2 linked regions of the Homo sapiens genome follow. The protein of the gene in region 2 purifies or fractionates together with the protein of the main gene of each other region. This does not show direct contact. Each region holds a gene or a part of one and is shown on either strand. Other genes may lie near its edges. The genes, in order: ASPHD2 and CLEC2B.

Evidence for each region.
Region 1: the proteins of CLEC2B (region 2) and ASPHD2 purify together in Homo sapiens (co-immunoprecipitation; 2 studies listed by BioGRID and IntAct, with this or other methods). This does not show direct contact.

What each region holds. Positions count from the first base shown.
Region 1 is NC_000022.11:26,437,761-26,447,905, forward strand, and holds the end of ASPHD2 (aspartate beta-hydroxylase domain-containing protein 2), read left to right. Parts: intron 1-4,698; coding exon 4,699-4,812; intron 4,813-5,336; coding exon 5,337-5,446; 3' UTR 5,447-6,921; coding exon of another isoform or gene 6,922-6,934; 3' UTR 6,935-7,255; downstream 7,256-10,145. UniProt on the Homo sapiens protein: May function as 2-oxoglutarate-dependent dioxygenase.
Region 2 is NC_000012.12:9,864,256-9,875,183, forward strand, and holds the start of CLEC2B (C-type lectin domain family 2 member B), read right to left. Parts: upstream 5,100-10,928; 5' UTR 4,950-5,099; intron 1-4,949. UniProt on the Homo sapiens protein: Membrane-bound protein expressed on myeloid cells which acts as a ligand to stimulate the activating receptor NKp80/KLRF1, expressed on the surface of natural killer (NK) cells.

The sequences.
Region 1 (10,145 bases), on a different chromosome or scaffold from region 2:
CCGCCTGAAGTGGGGGCCACTGGTGGACACAGCCCTTTCTCTACCCTCCTTCCTGCCTCTTTCAGGGCTCGGTAGGGACAGAGCAGCAAAGCTTGAGCCATAGAGGAGCATATGGGACTATCTGAGGCCATGTGTGGGACCTGTCACTGTCCTCAAGAGCCACTGGAATGATCTGTTTAGGGAAGAATTGAGCTCTTCTGCCAACTAAGCTGGTTTGTGGGCAACAGGCAGGAATGGGGGCAGGAGCAGAATGAAGGGGAGGCGGAGAACAAGAAGCAGGGGGGTGTCAAGCCAGCAGGCCAGGCCATTTTTCTATCGCACCGTGGCACGTGGCGATGAATCATTTAGTGGCCCAGAGAAAGGGGAGCTTCTTTCTGAAACCCCGGGGTGGCTGTCCCTGCAGAGAACTGCCCATTCCTAAAGGCCTTCGCCACCTGAACCAGCCAGTAGGGGCACACGCCAAAGGAAAACGTAGCCTCTGAGTCCCTCCATCTGGGCGTCTTTACAGCCCTGACTCCCCCAGCTGCTGTTAACCATAGTGGGAAATCATGGCTTCTGTCAGGATGAGCAGTCTCAGCTGATTTAATGAAATGTACTATTGAGAGTTGAAACATATTAGGGTCCTCTTAGAGGGACAGAACTAATAGGATATATATATACACACAGATATATACACACATACATATATATACATATATATACACACACACATATATATACATATATATAGATACACACATACATATATATACATACATATATATACATACATATATACACATACATATATACACATACATATATACACATACATATATATACATACATATATATACACACATATATACATATATATATACACACATATATATACATATATATATACACATACATATATATATATACACATACATACATACACACACACACACACATATATATATAAAGGGGAGTTTATTAAGTATTAACCCACATGATCACAAGGTCCCACAATAGGCTGTCTGCAAACTGAGGAGCAAGGAAAGCCAGTCAGTTTCCAAAGCTGAAGAACCTGGAGTCCGATGTTTGAGGGCAGGAAGCTTCGAGCACTGGAGAAAGATACAGGCTGGGAGGCTAGGCCAGTCTCACTTTTTTATGTTTTTCTGCCTGCTTTATATTTGCTGGAAGCTGATTAGATTGTGCCTGCCAGATTAAGGGTGGATCTGCCTTCCCCAGCCCACTGACTCAGATGTTAATCTCTTTTGGCAACACCCACATAGACACACCCAGGATTAATACTTTGTATCCCTCAATCTAATCAAGTTGAAACTCAGTATTAACTATCAGACATGTTAACTACAAGAAAATCAGCAATCAGGCCAGGCACAGTGGCTCAAGCCTGTAATCCCAGCACTTTGGGAGGCCGAGTCAGGTGGATCTCTTGAGGCTAGAAGTTCGAGACCAGCCTGGCCAACATGGTGAAGCCCCATCTCTACTAAAAATACAAAAATTAGCTGGGCACGGTAGTGCACACTTGTAATCCCAGCTACTCGGGAGGCTGAGGCAGGAGAATTGCTTGAACCCAAGAGGCAGAGGCTGCAGTGAGCTGAGATCATGGCACTGCACTCCAGCCTGGGCGACAGAGCACGATTCTGTCTCAAAAAAAATAATAATAAATAAAGAAAAATCGAAAACTCCACAATCACTTTAATTCCTCTGTTAATAGTATAACAACTAGCATTTATATCATCATGTCCAGTTTTATAACAGCCTGTTCTTTGGAGTCAGGCTGACTCAGCAACACTAAATGGTAACTTTTTAGCAGGTCATTTAACTTCTTAGTTACCCCATCTGGAAAGTGGGTGAAGTGATACCTGTTAAGTGTGTATTTAGCACAAAGCTGAGTAGGAAGACACAGTAGGTCTTCAGTTATTGGTAACAAGGATAGAAGTCCCATAGCAGCCCTGGAAGGTTCAGTATGCTAATGTCCCCTCTTTACAGGTGAGGGTATGGCTCAGAGAGGCTGAGTGACTTGCCCAAAGTCACACAGCACATAAGAGTCACAACCAGTCGTCTGTCCCCAAGTCCTCCGTCCTTCTGTCTCCTCCATGTGGCCTCTTTATTTGAATTATTACTGTGAACGTACTTCCTGGAACCATTATTTCTGGTTCAAAGAATACATTAAAATACTCTGGCTGCTGGAAGGAAAGCTATTTCATTTTTATGCTAAAGGACATTAAATCAGAGGGGAATGCCAACTGGCCCAGGGTCATTGTGGTCACAGTGAGTCACTGAAGACAGATGAGACCACCACCCATCCCAGCTCCTCTTCCAGGACTCTGCTTCCCCCTGGGTGGGCCTTCCTGAGAGCTGTTGGGCTGACCCAACCCCTTCTGAAATCATTAGATGGCCACGGTGGCCCCTTCTTTTCTGGACATCAAGGTAGTGATGGGGGCCAAGTGTTTCTGCAGACCCTTGTGTTGGAAAGGGCGACTGAGGGTCACACATGGCAGTGTTCCAACCGGACCCCACTGGCCGGTTGAAGCATACGGCTTATTTTTTATTTTTTATTTTTATTTTTGAGACAGAGTCTCACTCTGTTGCCCAGGCTGGAGTGCAGTGGTGCGATTCGCCCAGGCTGGAGTGCGGTGATGCAATCTCGGCTCACTGCAACCTTCGCCTCCTGGGTTCAAGCAATTCTCATGCCTCAGCCTCCCGAGTAGCTGGGATTACAGGCGTCTGCCACCATGCCTGGCTCATTTTGGATAATTAGTAGAGAGAGGGTTTCACCATGTTTGAGACCAGGCTGGTCTCGAACTCTTGGCCTCACGCGATCTGCCCACCCCTCAGCCTCCCAAAGTGCTGGGATTACAGGTGTGAGCCACTGTGCCCAGCCAAGCATACGGCTTCTTACAAAGCTGCCAGTCTATTTCCTCTTGAACCTAAGCCATTACCTTAGAAGTGTCCTCCAGTTTCCCAGAATGAGGGCAGACGAAGAGCACGCCATTCTCCAGCCTCAAAACGGATTAAAAGGCTAGAACCCAAGGAGGAGAACACTGTGTGAGCCTTTGATTTTTTAATCGCAACTGAGATAGTCCTAGAGGGGAGACTACAGTAAACACAGTTACTGGGTAAGGCAAGGTTCTAAACCCAACCTCCCTGGATTTCTGGGGGTCCCCTGGTTAGGCTTCAGAGTGTAGTGCAAATGTCAGTCTGTGACTTTCATAAAAGGAATCCATGACCCAGAATAGATGAAGCCAATGAAGGAATGAATTTTTGCCAAGAGTGCAGTGAAGATCTAGATGGTGGCTTATAAACAACAAAAATGTAGAACTCACAGTTCTGAGGCTGGAAGCCCAAGATCAAGGTGCCAGCAGATTTGGCGTCTGGTGAAGGCCTGCTTCTTGTTCATAAATGACACCTTCTCACTGTGACTTCACATGGTGAAAGGAGGTGGCCAGGAGCAGTGGCTCTTGCCTGTAATCCCAACACTTTGGGAGGCCAAGGTGGGAGGATAGCTTGAGGCCAGGAGTTCGAGACCAGCCCGGTCAACATAGCAAGACCCCATCTTTACAAAAAAAAGTTTAAATTAGCTGGGCATGATGGTGCACACCTATAGTCTCAGCTACTCAAGAGGGTGAGGCTGGAGCATCTCTAGAGCCTAGGAGGTGAAGGCTGCAGTGAACTATGGTGGAGCCACTGCATTTCAGCCTGGGCAACAGAACAAGACCTTGTATCTAAAAAAAAAAAAAAAAAAAAAAGATGTCAGGCCAGGTGCTGTGGCTCATGCCTGTAATCCCAGCACTTTGGGAGGCTGAGGCAAGCAAATCTCTTGAGGTCAGGAGTTCGAGATCAGCTTGGCCAACATGGTGGAACCCCATTTCTATTAAAAATACAAAAATTCGGCCAGGTGCAGTGGCTCACGCCTGTAATCCCAGCACTTTGGGAGGCTGAGGCGGGTGGACACGAGGTCAGGAGTTCAAGACCCGCCTGGCCAAGATGGTGAAACCCCATCTCTACTAAAAATACAAAAATTAGCCTGGCACAGTGGCAGGTGCCTGTAATCCCAGCTACTCGGGAGGCTGAGGCAGGAGAATCGCTTGAACCCAGGTGGCAGAGGTTCCAGTGAGCCAGGATCGCGCCACTGCACTCCAGCCTGGGCGACAGAGTGAGACTCTGTCTCAAACAAAACAAACAAAAAAATTAGCCGGGTGAGGTGGTGGGTGCCTGTAAGCTACTCCAGTGCCTCCCAGCTACTCCGGAGGCTGAGGTAGGAGTATCATTTGAACCTGGGAGGTGGAGGTTGCGGTGAGCCGAGATCACACCACTGCATTCCAGCCTGGGCAACAGAGAGAGACTCCATTTCAAAAAAAAAAAAAAAAAAAGGGAAAAGAAAAAAAGATGCAAAAGGAGGTAAAGAAGCTCCCTTGGGCCTGTTTTATAAGGATGCTGCTCCCATTAGGACCCCACCTTCATGATCTGATCACTTTCCAAAGGCCCCACCTCCTAACACCATCACCTTGGGGTCAGGTTTCAACATGGGAATTTGCAGGGACACAAGCCCACAAGCCTTCAGACCATAGCACGGGCTCCAGAGGTGTGAGGCAGGTCAGGTGCTTTAGAAGTCAAAAACTCTCAGTAAGGCAAATCACCCCCTATCTCCTGGCCTTCCCTGAATCTTGCCTGCCTTCACTCTCCTTTCTCTGGTTTTCCTACAAGGTCTGAAAACTCCAAATGGCTGTGAGCTGGTGGTGGGGGGAGAGCCCCAGTGCTGGGCAGAAGGGCGCTGCCTTCTCTTTGATGACTCTTTCCTGCATGCTGCGTTCCATGAAGGTGAGTGGCTGCCTTTCCCACTTCCTTTTTTTCAATGAATAGACTTTTATTTTTTTAGAGAAGTTTTAGGTTTCCAGAAAAATCAGGCAGAAAGTACCAAGGAGGCCCCTTCATATCACCCCATAACACATATACACACACAGTATTGATGCGTTATTATTACCTAAAGTTCATGGTTGACATTAAGGTTCACTCTTGGTGTTGTCCATCCATTCTGTGGGTTTCGCCAAATGGATAATGACACGGACCTACCATGACAGTATCATACAGAATAGTTTCACTGCCGTAAAAATTCCCACTTAAAGATCCCTCCATCTCCCCATTTCCTTTTGTCCACCCTGCTCAGAAGCCCATGAAGCCAGGTTTATGCTCTCAGTGAGAGAGGAGGTGGTCCGATCCGAGCCGAGGGACAGGATGGGGTCCCTGCCCCGAAGCTGAGCACGTAGGGTCCAGCCCTGCCTGGATCCTGGGTCCTGACTCCAGGGTGGTTTGAACCTGTCCTCTCACCCCTCCTTCCCCCCCAGGTTCAGCAGAGGATGGCCCACGGGTGGTTTTCATGGTGGATTTGTGGCATCCAAACGTCGCAGCGGCCGAACGGCAGGCTCTTGATTTCATCTTTGCTCCGGGACGATGAGAGTATTTCCCATGCTGGAGTCGGCGAGAAGGGCCGAGGCGGGGCCTGGGCAGACTGTGGTCCGGTCCAGTCCCTACCGGTGTTGTTTCCATGCTCAGAAACCTGCCTCAGCGGAAAGCTCTTATTTGGGATTTTATATCATGTCGGGTCCCTCTTTCCCTTGGTTATTGTAAATGGAAACTTTTCGGCTTGTATTTCCTTAGATTTTTTTTTTTTCCTTCCAATCATTTGCTTCAGAGACTCCTTTCTGGCCTAACAGCGCATTCCTTTGATTGGTCCTTGAGTGACCAGAGACTTAGTGCCCTTGTAAGTCTGTCTTCTGTTGCTACTTGTTTTTTTCAGTGCTCTGAAATAGAGTAACTAAATGGTTATTTGTCTGAATATAATAATGTAAAACTTCTTGTGGTCATCTTAAAAAAAAAAAAAAAAAACTAAAAACTGCAAACCAGAGAGCTAGAGAACTTGGCCTCTGATGCTGGCACACTGGGGACCCTTCAGCCACCTGACGGCAGGGGGACAGTCTGCAGCCCCCACACCTGACTGGCTTCAGTAGCCAGGTGGAGGGGCTGCCAGACACAGTCAGGGTGGCACACAGTGTCCAGGCCCAGGGATACTGTCACCATCGCTCACCTCATTCTAAACCTTGTCAGGTCCCTGATGGCAAAAGCATTGGGCCAGTAGGACTGGAGGCTACTCTTTAAACATGGCTTTCCTGCAAAGCTGAAGCTGGTGTCCCCCAGCACCAAGCTGCGGCTCACACAGATCAGCCACGGAACGTGTGATCCGCTTACCTCACTGCCTACAGAAGCCCTACTGCCAAACTGGGCCTGGAAAATTCCCAGTTTTAGGTGTTTTGAGTCCACAGTGATGAACGTTAAGGCCACCAGGTTGGCTGATAGGAGCTGTAGGGGGATAGGACCGCGCTCACCCAGCGACATTTGGGGAAAGCCTTTCTCTGGCAAAACTGGAATAATAGATCTGACCAAAGTTTCTGTTTTGCTTTGGAGTTCTGTTGCCTATGTTTTTTTTTTTTTCATTTATTTGTCTGTACATAAATGTTCAAACACTAGACTTGGAGATAGTGGAAGAGTTGGCCCTGTGTCTTTGTCATGGCACAAAGGTGTGCACTGCGTGACAATGACCCAAGCCAGTGTGTGCTAGTGAGGAGACAGAGAAGACCTACATGCCCAGAGGACCCGTGGCCGTTGTGCTGGTTTTCTGGTCTCCTGTGAAGAACATGTGGATCTCTTCCCGAAGGAAAAGGTCCCAGGAGACCAGTTTGAGGCACTCACTCTAGAAATAGCCTGTGTTAGCTGATGTGTGAAAGCGTAGCCGGCCAGCCACACTAGAGATGCCTTTTCTGAATAATGTATTATGAGCAGTGTCAGATTTATAAAGCCGAGGAGTGGTTTGGAATATACAGCTGGTCGCAGGTGCAGGTCCAGTGTTTAGATCCAAATGGAAAACAGCAGCTTCTAAGAGGTACAACTGTTGGAAGAAAACACAGTTGAAATGCACCAGGCAGGTACTAGCAAGTGTGCAAAGAGCACGTCTACATTTGAGTAAAATGTCTACACAGATATTTGTCAGTGATGAGAATGCAGGAAAAGGCAGACATTTCAAACATACCTGAAGTCTTTTTACTCATTATCTTGTTAAAGAATCACTGAGGTGCATGATTTCTACACATCGTGACTGCTCTGCTCTGCGTTTACAAAACCAACAGCCCGCGCAGGTACCTAGCTACCTGCATTCATGTGACATGTCTGGGGAACAGAAGATAAATAAAGGATCTTGCTGAAAACCAGAGTGAAGTGGTGAGGTCATCTGTTGTAAAGAAAGACTTAGGCCAGGCTCGGTGGCTCACGCCTGTAATCCTAGCACTTTGGGAAGCTGAGCGGGGAGGATTGCTTGAGCCAAGGAGTTTGAGACCAGCCTGAGTAATATAGTGAGGCGTTGTCTCTACCAAACAAACAAACTAGCTGAGTGTGGTGGTGCACACCTGTAGTCCCAGCTATTTGAGAGGCTGAGGTGGGAGGATCACTTGAACCTGGGAGGCGGGGGCTGCAGTGAGCCTAGGTCGCGCCAGTGCACTCCAGCCAAGACGACAGAACAAGACCCTGTCCAAAAAAAAAGACTTGCTAGGCAGAAGGGGGCAAGTGACTTTGAGGCTCTTGTGTTTTGAGTGATGTCACAGAGACAGGCGGGTCACTAGAATTGATCGTGGATAGTGAATGAAGCAAAATGTCCCAAAGCAATGGGACTAGTGGGGTGGGGACAAGAGCACATCTAGGATATGTTAAGGAGCAATAGATGTCTAACTGGGCAAAGAAGAACAAGGACCCTGGCTTCAGAAAAGCTGAGGATTTAGGACTCCGTGCCAGGAGTTTGCACCCTCGGGACCTTGGGCAAGTCCCTTAGCCTCTCATAGCCTCAGTTTCTCCTCTGTGGGTATGTGCAGTATCTGGCACATGAAGGGCACTCAACAACCTTGTTTCCCTTTCTGCCACAGCTGAGTAGAGAAACAGGTGAAGAGGAAGGCCGCCAAATGGAAGAGATGGGAAAACACATCGGGACAGCAGTGGGTGTGGCCAGAGAAGCCAGTGGCTACTTTCAATTGCCTGTGTCTAATCACAGAGGAAGAAACATGTCCCTCAGTAGCTGTGTTTTTCATGTTTTTCCCTTTAGAAGAGAGGGAGACAGGGGGGTCTCCCAGCCAGGAGCCCTAGAAGCAGCCGGGCTGCCGCATGTTTCCACCTGCAAGCGAGGTTCCAGCCAGCTGTCCGGGCTGGGCTGCCACAACAAGCGGAAGGGAAGAGCGCCACTCACCTGGGATCGCGATGTTTCTCACCCTCCTCAAGTGTGCATTGCCAGCTAGGCATTGCTAAGCTAATTTACGTGTTGTAGCTCTGGAGGCTCAAGGTGAGAAAGGGGAGCCAGCCGGCTGCAAATGGGAATCCTGCCTTCCACCCGAGACAGGCTGGACTGGCCTCAAGCTCCCTCTGTTCCCATGTACTCAAGGCCAGACCAATTACTATTTGTAGAAGGTCACACCCCAGGTCTTCTGATCCCAAACCCTTTCTCCCAGGCACCTGTTCATCAGCCCCTAGAGTCACCCAGATTGTCTGGGTTCTGTCCTTGGTGACAGCGATTAAACTTGTAACACTGAGTGCTCCGTAGCATACTGTGGGGGAGAGGAGTGATCCTGGTGTGCTGGTCCTTGACTGTGGCTGCACGATGCAGTCACCCGGGAACTTGTCGGAAACCCCAAAGCACACACCCCACTCCCAAAGCATCTTTTTTCATTGTTCCGAGAGTGGGGTCCAGGCACGGGTCTTTGTTTTAAACTCATTTCCGGTCATGATTCTAACGTGTAGCTCAGGCTGAGGGGGTCGCTGCTGTGAGTAGCAAGAATGATAAGGCCTTTGAAACCATTCAGCCTGGACATTAAAGTCTGAGCTATGGCCCTGTGTAACACCGGGCAGGCCACCTAAGCTTGGTCTCTAGAGGACAGTCACTGTTTTTTGTTATCTGTTTTTGTTTTTTTGAGACAGAGTCTCCTCTGTTGCCCAGGCTGGAGTGCAGTGGCGCAATCTCGGCTCACTGCAACCTCCACCTTCTGGTGATTCTCCTGCCTCAGCCTCGTGACTAGCTGGACTTACAGGTGCCCGCTTCCACGCCTGGCTAATTCTTGTATTTTTAGTAGAGACAGTTTCACTATGTTGGCCAGGCTGATCTCGAACTCCTAACCTCAAGTGATCAGCCTGCCTCTGCCCCGCAAAGTGCTGGTATTACAGGCATTAGCCACCACGCCTGGCCAGCAGCCACTGCTTTTAAACCTATCCTGCCAACAGTATGAGCCTCTTGCAAGACCATAACATCCCCATGCTCAGTCCTTGGGTCTCCAGGGCTGGGCCCATGATCCAGATCTGACCAATCAGTCTTCCAAACTCTGGGCCACTGAGAGATTGGGTCAGGGCTGGACACGTGATCCAAGTTCTTTTTCTGGGACGACTGTGAAAGAGAGGCCACTTTTTATTAGGTGGGGTGGTGGGGGGAGGTGAAGGGAAAGAAGCTGAGAGAGAAACCCACGGAGGCAAGCGGGGCCTGCGCTGTGGAGATCACGTGAGTCCTGAACGCAGCTCTGCCGAAAACCAGCTCTACCTCTGGACTTTTCTGTTACATGAGCCAATAAGTGCGCCTTTTATTCGTAAGCCAAGTTTGAGTTGTGGTTTCTATCCTTGCCACCAAAAGTCCTAATCCACTCTGTGAGTGTCAAGTGAGGTTTTGGTAAGATGCTATTATGTCGTGGTCTGGGTGGATGGGAGAGGTGCTCCATACACATTGTCAGGATGTAAATATGAGTAGCAGAGGCTAAGCACAGAATGAGGTTTTTGAGGACCGTCATGCCTGCTGCCAGCAACCTTCCATAACATTTAACTCCCCAGCCGAATCTTGCTAACCAGATGTAAACACAGGGAACAGGACAGAATAAGGCCACATATTTTAGAACTGCTGACAGATGGCAGGGAAAACACTCAAGCAGATTGCAGCATTAGGAGGCAGGAGGGAGCACACACAGGGATTGGTTTACTTTCCGCCTCTTTCCCAGGCACACACGTTGCTTCTAACTTCTGGGTACCTGCCCTTCCCCATATCTCCCCGCTTCCCATACATTAGCCACCCCCACGTTCGAGGT
Region 2 (10,928 bases):
AAAACTGAGAGAATTCACCACCACCAGACATATCTTATAAGAAATGCTAAAGGGAGTTCTTCAACCAAAAAGAAAAAAACACACGAACAGAAAACAGCTGAATATCTAAAATACACTGATAAAATTAAGTGTATGCACAAACCCAGAATACTCTAATACTGTAATTGTGGTGCACAATCTTCTCATATCCCTAGTAATGAAGACTGGAAGATAAATCTATCAAGAACAATGATAACTGCAGAAACCAGTTAAGAGGTAAGCAATAAAAATATGTGAATTGGGAAAACTAAATTAAAAATGTGTGAGGGTGGAGTAAAAGTGTTTTTTTCCTTTGTTGCTATTCTTTGTGATATAAGTTGTTATCTCTTTAAAATAACTTGTTATATCTATAAGATTTTTTATAAGCCTCATAGTAATCACAATGCAAAACCTATAGTAGAGTCATTAAAAATAAAAAGCAACTAATTAATATATACCACCAGAGAAAATTATATAACCCCAAAGAATGACAGTAAGAAAAGAAAAAAGAGAGAAATTTAAAAACAACCATAAAACAAGCAACAAAACAGCCCCAGAAAATCCTTACTTAACAATAACATGGAATTTAAATGAACTCAACTCTCCAATTAAAAGACATAAAGTGCAGGCCGGGTGCAGTGGCTCACGCCTGTAATCCCAGAATTTTGGGAGGCCAAGGCAGGCAGATCATTTGAGGTCAGGAGCTCAAGACTAGCCTGTCCAACATAACGAAACCACATTTCTACTAAAAATACAAAACTTAGCTTGGTGTGGTGGTGTATGCCTGTGATCCTGGCTACTCAGGAGGCTGAGGCAGGAGAGTCGCTTGAATCCAGGAGTTGGAGGCTGCAGTGATCTGAGATCATGCCACTCCACTCCAGCCTGGGCAATAAAGCAAGACTCTCTCAAAAAAAAAAAAAAAAAAAAAGCATAAAGTTAAAGTGGCTGACTTGGTAAAGAGAAAACCCTAACTGTATGCAGCCTACAGGAAATCTGCTTCACCTATAAAGACACACAGAGAATGAAAGTGAAGGGGATGAACAAAGATATTCCATGCAAATAGAAACCAAAAAAGCCGGAGCAGCTATACTTATATCAGATAAAATAGATTACAAAACTTTAAAAGACTACTTTAAAAAGAGACAAAGGTTACTATATAATGCTAAAGAGGTCAATTCAGCAAGAGGATATGACAGTTCTAAAAATCTATGGACCCAACACCAGATCTCCCAAGTATATAAAGCAAACATTCATTGATCTAAAGGGAGAGATAGACTGCAATGCAATAATATTGGGGGACTTTAACTCCTCACCCTGAGTAATGGACAGATAATCTAAACAGGAAATCAACAAGGAATATTGGAGTTATACTGCACACTTTACCAAATATATCCAACTGACACGTACAGAAGCACTGCTGCAGAATACTCATTATTTTTATCAGTACATGGAGCATTCTCCAGAACAGACCACATTGTAGGCCAAAAAACAAGTCTCAATAAATTAAAAAAAGTAGAAATCTAATCAAGTATCTTTTCTGACCACAATGGGATGAAACTAGAAGTCAATAACTTGAGAAACCTCAGAAACTGCACAAACATGAAAATTAAATAATGTGCTCCTTAACGACCAAAGAGTCAATGTTGAAATTAAGAAAATTTTAAAAATTTCTTGAAACAAATGAAAATGGAAGCACAATAAACTAAAATCTGTGGAATGCAGAAAAGCAGTACAAAGAAGGAAGTTTATAGTAATAAATGCCTTTAAAAAAAGGTAAAAAGACTTCAGATAAATAACCTAATGATGAACTTAAAGGATTTGTAAGAGCAAGAACAAACCAAACCCCAAATTAGTAGAAAAAAGAAGTGTTAAAAAATCAAGCTCTTTCTGATGAGGTTTCTTATCTTTCATATATAACCTTATTAATATCATGAATTATTTATTAATTTTCTTTAAACCTCAGGTATCGAAAAGACAGGAAGTTTTTTCTCTGTTTTCAATGCCATGAATCAAGTAAATATGTCAGTATGTCATTCCGTTTTTCTCCCCATGAATTGGCATAATGTAAAAATATAGATGTTAGAGATATCATGATTTCAAAATCTTGATCAAACCTTTGTGGCATGTAATTGTATTTTCTTACCCCCATTTGATCCTATACTCTTCATCCATTAACTAGTACCACTTCTATTTTTTTTTAAAGAGCATATGTGTGTTGTGTTTTTAGAAAGTATAGTTACAACAGGAAGTAAATAAAAGGTAACTTTTGCTATTATTTTTTTCTTGTGTTATAGTTGTCCTGTTTTTAAATATTTTAATTATTTTGTGTGTGTTAAGAGTGTAAAGATTATTTACATTTGCAGCAAGTGGAAGTATTTTTTGAGTCAATTTCATATCTGTTATTTGAAGGAGGTAGTCAGACCATTTTGATATTCTTTCTTCCAGAATGACTGTTGAAAAGAAAACCCTAAGCTGCTTAAATCAATGGCCTTTTCAATTAAAAAAAAATCTAGCTTATTGAAGTAATGTTTCTGAAAATTGTGAAGGGATTTTAAAAAGAGGAAATAACTTCGAGCTAACAGGTAGAGAGAAGGGCAATGCACATCCTGACAATATGAGAAATGACAATTTGCAGATACAGCGGAAAATAGGAGCCCTTTCCATTGCAAAGTTGGCAAGGTATTAGAGTATAAGGACTTGGTGGTGTATACAGAGTTGGTAGATTTTACGTACAGATGACCCCAGCTTCAAAAAAGATGATCGTACTTTAAATGTGGCAAAGAAACAGTGTGGCTTTTGTTATGAGTTCAGCACAAAATAGCAGAGCTAGACCCGAAGAGGTCATTTATATTGGAACATGGTCTTCTCAGGTGTAATCAGTGGAAACTGATGAATGGAGACCATTATAACACTTTGGTGTCTTATACAACCTGGGAAACTTCATATAACCTTGGAAGAAATCTCTCACTCTCAATACCACCAAATGACAGAAAGTAAGTAAACTGTCCTGTCCATTCAGTGGGATGGAGACTTGAAGTAACATTTAATTTTATTTAAATAACTAATGAATTCAACATTTATTGCATGTCTGAATATGTAGGTACAAATTTAAACCTATTATGTGTTCATTCTCTACTTAATCTATATCGTGAACCCTGAAATCTAGCTTTTTACACTCAGCATAAGTTGTTTTCAGTTGTTTTTAATTTCCCAGAATCTTTTCATTGTTACTGAATTCTCAATACTTATTTAGGAGGCTGTAATTATTTACATGAGTTATCAGAAAAATTAGTGGCATTGGTAGAATGTGGTTAGCATAGCTGCCTTTCAAACAAATTAAAAAATTGTGATCTCCCACGATGAAGCTGATATCGAAACATGAATTTCAAAGTTGTTGAGCCTTCTTAACGTTTGATGAGGCTATGCTTAAAAGGACACTTCCCCAGACAGTTCGAGAACAATGGATTTAATTAACAGTGTAACTAAAATAGTTCTATATTTAAATGTATAATCTAAACAGTTAAGGACTGCAATTGTTTTCCCCATAGAAAAGTTTCAGTGACTCAACTGTTTTCTGTTTGATTCTGCTCTCTAAGGAAAGATAAGAAAGATGCAGAGTGACCAATGCATTTAAAATCAAACAGAATATTATTTTTCTTGGCTAATAGCTATAGAAAAAAATCATAAAATACTGATAAGCAGAGCAAATAAAATATTTGTTAAAATGTATATAAAAACTGACTGAATTATATCACACTGCCCTAAATTACCGCTATTAAAACGATGTTCATAATTTCAGATATATATGTATCTATAATATATACAATATTATACTGAATATATTATTCAGTAACTTTTAAAATATATTCATATGTAATATGATATATAATATTGTATTATATAATGTATTTATATACAAATGTATAAATTTATACAATTGATTGAAAGTAGAAAATAACACTGGTTTTACTAGTGGCTGGAAGGCCTTCTTAAAACTTTTGATTAAAATGATATTTTATGCTACCATCAAATATTGATCTCATTCCCCGCAAACCTGTTTTATCTAACTTTAGGCAGAATTATAAAACCGGTTAAAATACGGGAGGAAGGATAAAGTGTGCATTCTATTGTACCACAGCAATAATTTTTTTGACCGTAGCATACGCTGGTAGGTTGACATTTAGTTAAACGGGAAATGCTTAAAGCTCATCACAGTCCCTAAATCTCTAAATCATAGATCGTTGTATTGAATGCATTTAGTTTCAGCCTTTTCTCTTTCAAATATTTTGACATAAATAAACCCTGTTGAAATCTCAAAGATGTAGCTTGGATCTTATATATTCCGAACTTGCTATTTAATAAATCCAATGTTACCAGGTTGTTTCATAGTGTATTTTTTAGAACATTTTCTTTCCTTATCCTTCTTAGGGTTGGTAAAGACATCTCCATGGATATCGGAGTACTAGCAATTCCTTAGTAAGAGTAGGAAAGGGATATATTCTTTCCGTTAAGTACTCCTAAAGCCCGGAGTATCTTTACACCATCCAATAAAGCAATCTTTAAAAATATTAGAACTATTGGCTAAATTTATCATATTATGTATGCATTCTGAGAACTGTATGAGTATCTGGATCATATCTATCATCTTCTCAAGTATTTGTTTTATAAAATACTTAGTAAAAATGAAACTAAATCTTGAGCAGTTTTAAGTCATGGTTAATCCTTCTCCATTGTAATTCAAATAATGTAAAGTAAGTCTGAATTTATTAGGACAAAACAGTCATATGCAAATCTCAATCTTGTTATAAGAAGGAATTTTCTAGTTTCACAAAAGAAACCACAAAATTTAATTCTTTTCTCGAAGGCTTTAACATTCTGCATCACAATTTCAATAAATAACGGTCATTCTAAACAAACAAAAATGTTCTTACCGTGCTTCTTTTAATCAGCGTTTTGATTTTCTGCTAGCAGCTTTGTGTCATGTCTTGCAGAAACTCTCTTCAAAGTTGTAACTTTATTTAACTTTAATATAAAAATGTTACTCTTGTTTTTACAGCACAGCTCCAAACTAGAGGTATACCACTTTTGAAGAGTAACTCAAAGTATAAATAGCATTTTGCAAACTGGAAGTAACCATGTGACTATCTATTAGTCATACTGTTGTTTATTACAATTTTCTTCTCGTCAAAAAAGAAAGCTTGCCAAGGAGGAAGGAAGTTTGTGATATAACAATTTAAAGCTGAAGAATAAACACATATTTTCTTACTTTCTCAACTGGGATTCTCATCTGAACCACAGAACACGAAATTGCTCAAGTGGCTGTTTTTCTGATTCATCCAGGAGTGGTACTTAACCACGTATCCTTCCAGAACTGTAGGAGAGGCTGATACTAATTAATTCAACAGCATTCTTTAGGACATTACTGCTTTCTTATCCTGTGTTAAGAAAGATCACCTTAAAAGCGATAGAATCAAAGAAAAAGCAATGGTTTAAACTTTGGCTACTGAAAGAAAAACAAAAACTATTATCTCTCTCTCAAAGACAAATGCGTGCAAAGTCACACGTGTGGGTGTGAGCACACACACAAACACACACAAAGACACACAGAGGGAAAAAAGAAAACGAAAGTAACAAAGTGCCCAGAACGTTATCATCAGCATACAAGATGACACCATTATGCTTTTGCTAAGTTACCAGGCCACAATTTTGTCTTCAAATCTGCTCTAATCAGTTTCCCAGTGATTTTGTATTACCCCTCAACAAATATATTAGGGAGGAAACTGAGGAGAAGAAGCCAGTGTCCCGCAAGCGGCTTCGGGATTAACACTGCATTTGTTCTGAGAGAGAAACTTGAAGAGGAAAAGCAAATGAGAATAGAGAAGAAACTGTAGTACAAAGGAATTAAAACAAAGAAAATATGAAGAGAATAAGAAATACAGGTTTAATCATTTCTGGGCAGAAGGAAAGGACAGATAACAAAATTGCTCTTTTCATTTTTGGACAGAAAAAAAAGACAGAAAATTCATGAGGAAATGAATATATTCTACCTTTGTTGTTAACAAAAGATTGTATCCAAAGAACTATTAGAAAAGCATGTATAGAAAAATATAGAGATTACTCAAGTATGGTTGAGTGAAATTTAGTTTTGTTCCAAAAAGGAAAACAGTCAAGATACAACAGTTAAGATATAAAACATTTTCAACACAGGGAAATGTTCCCCGCTGTTGCTTTGCAGTTCATCCTCACCCCTGAAGCCAGGCAGCAGCCAACTTACTGTCAATAAACATGAGCTTTGCTGGTTTTAGAAATTCCTGTTAAGCAGAATGATACAGTTGGCAATTCTTGTAAGTCTGATGTCTTTCACTGAGCATAATGTTTTTGAGTTTTATCCATGTTTTTGCACAGATCAGCAGTTAATTTCTTTTTATTACTGAGTAGTATTTCATTGTACAGACATAAAATATTTTTATCTATTTTATAATAAAATGTATCCATTATGACATTGAGCTTTTTCCACTTCTTGGATATCATAAGGTCAAAATAAACATTTATGCAAAAGTTTTTCTATTGACACGTTTTTTAATCTTTTGAAGAAATACCTGGATGTGAAACTGCTAGGTTACATAGAAAATGTATGTTTTATTTTATAAATGTATTTTTTTCCAAAAAGTTGTGCCATTCCCAACATGAATATTGGATGGTTCTATTTGCTCCACATAAATAGCAATATTAGATATGCCCAATCTTTTTCAATTTAACCATTCTAGTAGGCGTGTAGTAGAATCTAAATGTGATTTTAATTTGTACATCTCTGATGTTATATTGAGCATTTACTCACGTGCGTATTGGTAACTCATATATCTTTTTTCAATGACCTATTTAAATATTTTTCCCATTTTTATGGATTTATTTGTTTCCTTATGGTGATTTTTAAGATTTTATATATATGTAAATATATATGTAGAGAAACATACACATAAAAATGTGTATATAAATAAGTAAAATGGGTTGCAACATAATATAGAAAAATTCCATTTTTAGATAAATGTATTAAAAATACTTTCCATCATTTGTATAGTGACTTTTCACAATTTTTTTTCTCAAAAATTTTAAAAATCTAGAAGCTTCTAAACGTTGGACTCTCTAATCCTAACAAAGTTACATGTTCTCCCTTGTCGAGGTCATGCCTTTTTCCTTAAAGAAAATATTGTGCCCTTCACACCCTCCTTACAGGAATCCCTCCCTTACTTGCCTTTCTTAGTTATTGGTCATAAGGCCAATAACTAAGGTTATGTGCTAAGCTTATAAGGGAGAGAAAGGGCTATACTCAGAATGAATTTGGACCTAACCAATATATAATAACAACAGCTTGGAGTGTACACAATGGGATTGGATTCTGAGGGTGCTAGATCATGAGAGAAACATAAAGCTGGATAAGGGAGATTTTATCAACATTAGGGCATTCAGTTGCAATACAGAATTTAATAACTTGGAAAAATACTGTGAACAGTGCTGACATACTGCTGAAATAACTCCAAGAAGATTGGAGAAAGCAATGGCTCACGCTGAGTAGAGTAACATTCCAGAATTCCCATGGCAGGTAGCTGAAGAAAAGATAAAAATGCTTAGAGAAGTGGGCATGCTACAGTGGATAAACTAGATAAGGACAGGAAACCCACCAACTGACTATGTTCTATGGGATGATATAATGGGCACCTTATTTACCAAAGCAGTAAGGAAGGCGCTGGTGGAAGAACTTAAGTCCTACATAAACATCACTGAGAAGCTTAGCATAGTTCTTCTCTACATGCCAAAGATTACAGTGGGAGATGTTCCCACAGAACTGAATTCAGAGAGAGTATTGGGACAGGGTTTGAAGTAGGAAACGCCAAGTGTCAGAGTGCCACTCTGAAACAAGCTGGGGCCAATTATAGTAATGAGGGTCAAATTGCAATAGCAGCCAGGATTACTGACATATAGAGCCATAGCAATGTCAGATAGAGCTCAATGTTCACAGAAGTAATATAGAGAGCCAAAAAGGGTGCTTCCACTTCTGTGCTGTCCTTTAACAACTGGTGGAACAGAGAAAAACACACACATAACAAGCTCTGGTTTGTAACACCAGCTGATTTCCGTGATGTAATTATTCCCACCATTGCTGATTTCAAGGTACCCAGGTGACATCACTGAACACACAGAGTTGGAAATAAATATGCAGTAGTACAGCATTACGTATTATTTTCACTATACGGATGTAACAGATGTTAATAATTTCATGCATGGATAATAGCAAAATCTTCTAAAAATCATCACAAATTGATGAGTTCTAAGTATTTATTTTATTAGCTTGGCATTAGGGCCACAATGACTCCAAATGTCATGACCCAGGTTAGGTTCCAGCCCATGCTGAGGTCTGAGGGGAGTGGGTGGATGGGCGATAGCTGAAAGAACACTTGGGGGCCCTAAGCAGGTGAAATGTAGTTTTATTTACCAACAGCGACTCTCTCACACTGTCTGCCTTTATCTCCGCTGTCTGCTCTGGCTCTGGGACTCCTGCCGCCGCCACGCCTGCAGCAGCACGCCCTGGCCTGCAAGGCCAGCTCTGTCAGGATTAGCAGCTTAACTCTTTCCCTCTGGGCACAAGCTCGTTCCTGGTTCCCCTCTGCCTGCCTTCAAGGCGACTGGCTCTCCCTTACAAGGGTCAATAGTGCTACTCTCTTTCTGGGCACCAGTGCGAGCCATGTCATGCCATGCCACGCCATGCTGAGCCAAGGCAAGCCCAAGAGCGCCTGTACAGCATCAGCAGGGCAGTTATACCTTTTCCAAACAATAGTGGATTTGAGCCAAGTATGAGCTTACACAAACAGGTTATATAACAAGTGGAGTTATATGCCTGCACTCCAAACTCATTAAGTCACTATGGCCTGGATGTCTGCCTCAGCCTACTTCTTGACCAAAGCACATTTATGCACCTTACTGTTGGTGCAAAAGTTACTTTAGATAATTTTTAAAAATAATGATGTTTAACAATTGGCTCGAGAACCCTTGAAAATTTAACAGTCAGCTGTATACCACTGACTTTGCTGGACATGTACAACGGGAAAGAAATCAAGGGTGGATTACTAGTAGGCTAAGGGCAACCATGTACTCAAAACGTATAAACTATTACCCTAATCTAGTTTGGCCCAAGCCAGTTTTCTGACAGAGGACCCAATAATGGGAGAACTCATCCTTAAAAAGAAGCCCTCTTCAACACCAAGACTAGAGTAAATGGTAAGTATTTCTCCAGTCCATCCCCAGTGCGACTTATATTAGGCTTCTCAAGCTACCATAATGAAATAACATAGGCTGGGTGGCTTAAACAACAGAAATTTATTTTTCATCATTCTGGAGGCTCAAAGCCTAAGATCAAGGTGCTAGCCAGGTTAGTGTTCAATGAGGTCTCTCTTCCTGGAGCCGACTACTGCCTTCTCACTGTGTCCTCACATGACATTTTCTCTGTGTATGTGCAGAGAGGGTATCTTTCCCTCTTTTTATATGTATACCAGTCTTATGAGATTAAGGCCTTACCCTTATGACCTTATTTAACCTTAGGTTCCTCCTAAAGACACTCTCTTAAAATATAGTCACACTGGGGGTTATGTCTTCAGCATATGTGTTTGGATAGGAGCACAAATCAGTTCACAACAGGATTCATGGCCATTTATTTGAATAACTGGGAAAAAATCCAGGACATACATTTCTAGGATTACAGAATGCAGATGTAAGTTGACATTGATTCCCAAGAAAGGATCATGACCCTCCTGTTAGAGTAGAAGCTTATGGAGTCCCAGTAATAGAGTATTTGCTTATGTCTGGTTCACAGTAGGCCCAAGGACTCACCCAGTAGACATTCTTTGGTCTTTGAATACATAATGGGACACCACATACTTAAGAATTGGTACAAAGTTCACATTGGTTCCTTGGCCAGCTTGGTATGTACTGCGGTGAGAAAGACCAAGGCTCCTGAAACTGCTCCCCTCCTCTCCACTGGACATGATAGTCAACCCAAAATAATTCTGCATTATAGAGCGAATGACAAAGGTTATTGCCACCCATAAATACCTCAAAGACACAAGGATGCTGGTATCCATTTACCTCTATTTTATTCACCAGTGCAGCTCTGACAAAACTATATGGATTCTGGATGATGACAATTGATTATTGCAAGCTCAATCAAACAATAATTCCAAGTGTAGCTGCTGATTTAAATACAGAATACTTGTTAAAGCAAATTACCCTATGCTCAGGTACAGAAAATATGGCCATTAATTTGGCAAAAGAATTATTTTTTTATCTCTTTTAACAAATGAGTACCAAAAATATTTGGTAGTTATTTAGGGCTGACATGAGTAGACACTTACATTCTTGCCCCAGGTCTGTTAACTGTCCCACTGTCTATCATAATATAGTGAAGAGACCTGGACTGCTTGGACAGCCTACAAAATTTAACTCTTGTTCACTGTGCTAATGACAGTATACAAATTGAACTAGATGAGAAAGAAGGAGCAAGTACATTGGAGACATTGGTAAGATGCATACACTTCAGTGAGTTGTGAATACAGCAAAGATTGAATGGCCACTGCATCACATCAGTGAATTTTTTTTTTTTGGACAGAGTCTCATTCTGTCGCCCAGGCTGGAGTGCAATGGCGCAGTCTCGGCTCACTGCAAACTCCGCCTCTCGGGTTCATGCCATTCTCCTGCCTCAGCCTCCAGAGTAACTGGGACTACAGGCACCCGCCAATTTTTTTATATTTTTAGTAGAGACGGGGTTTCGCCATGTTAGCCAGGATGGTCTCAATCTCCTGACCTCGTGATCCACCCGCCTCGGCCTCCCAAAGTGCATCAGTGAAATTTTTATGTTTACA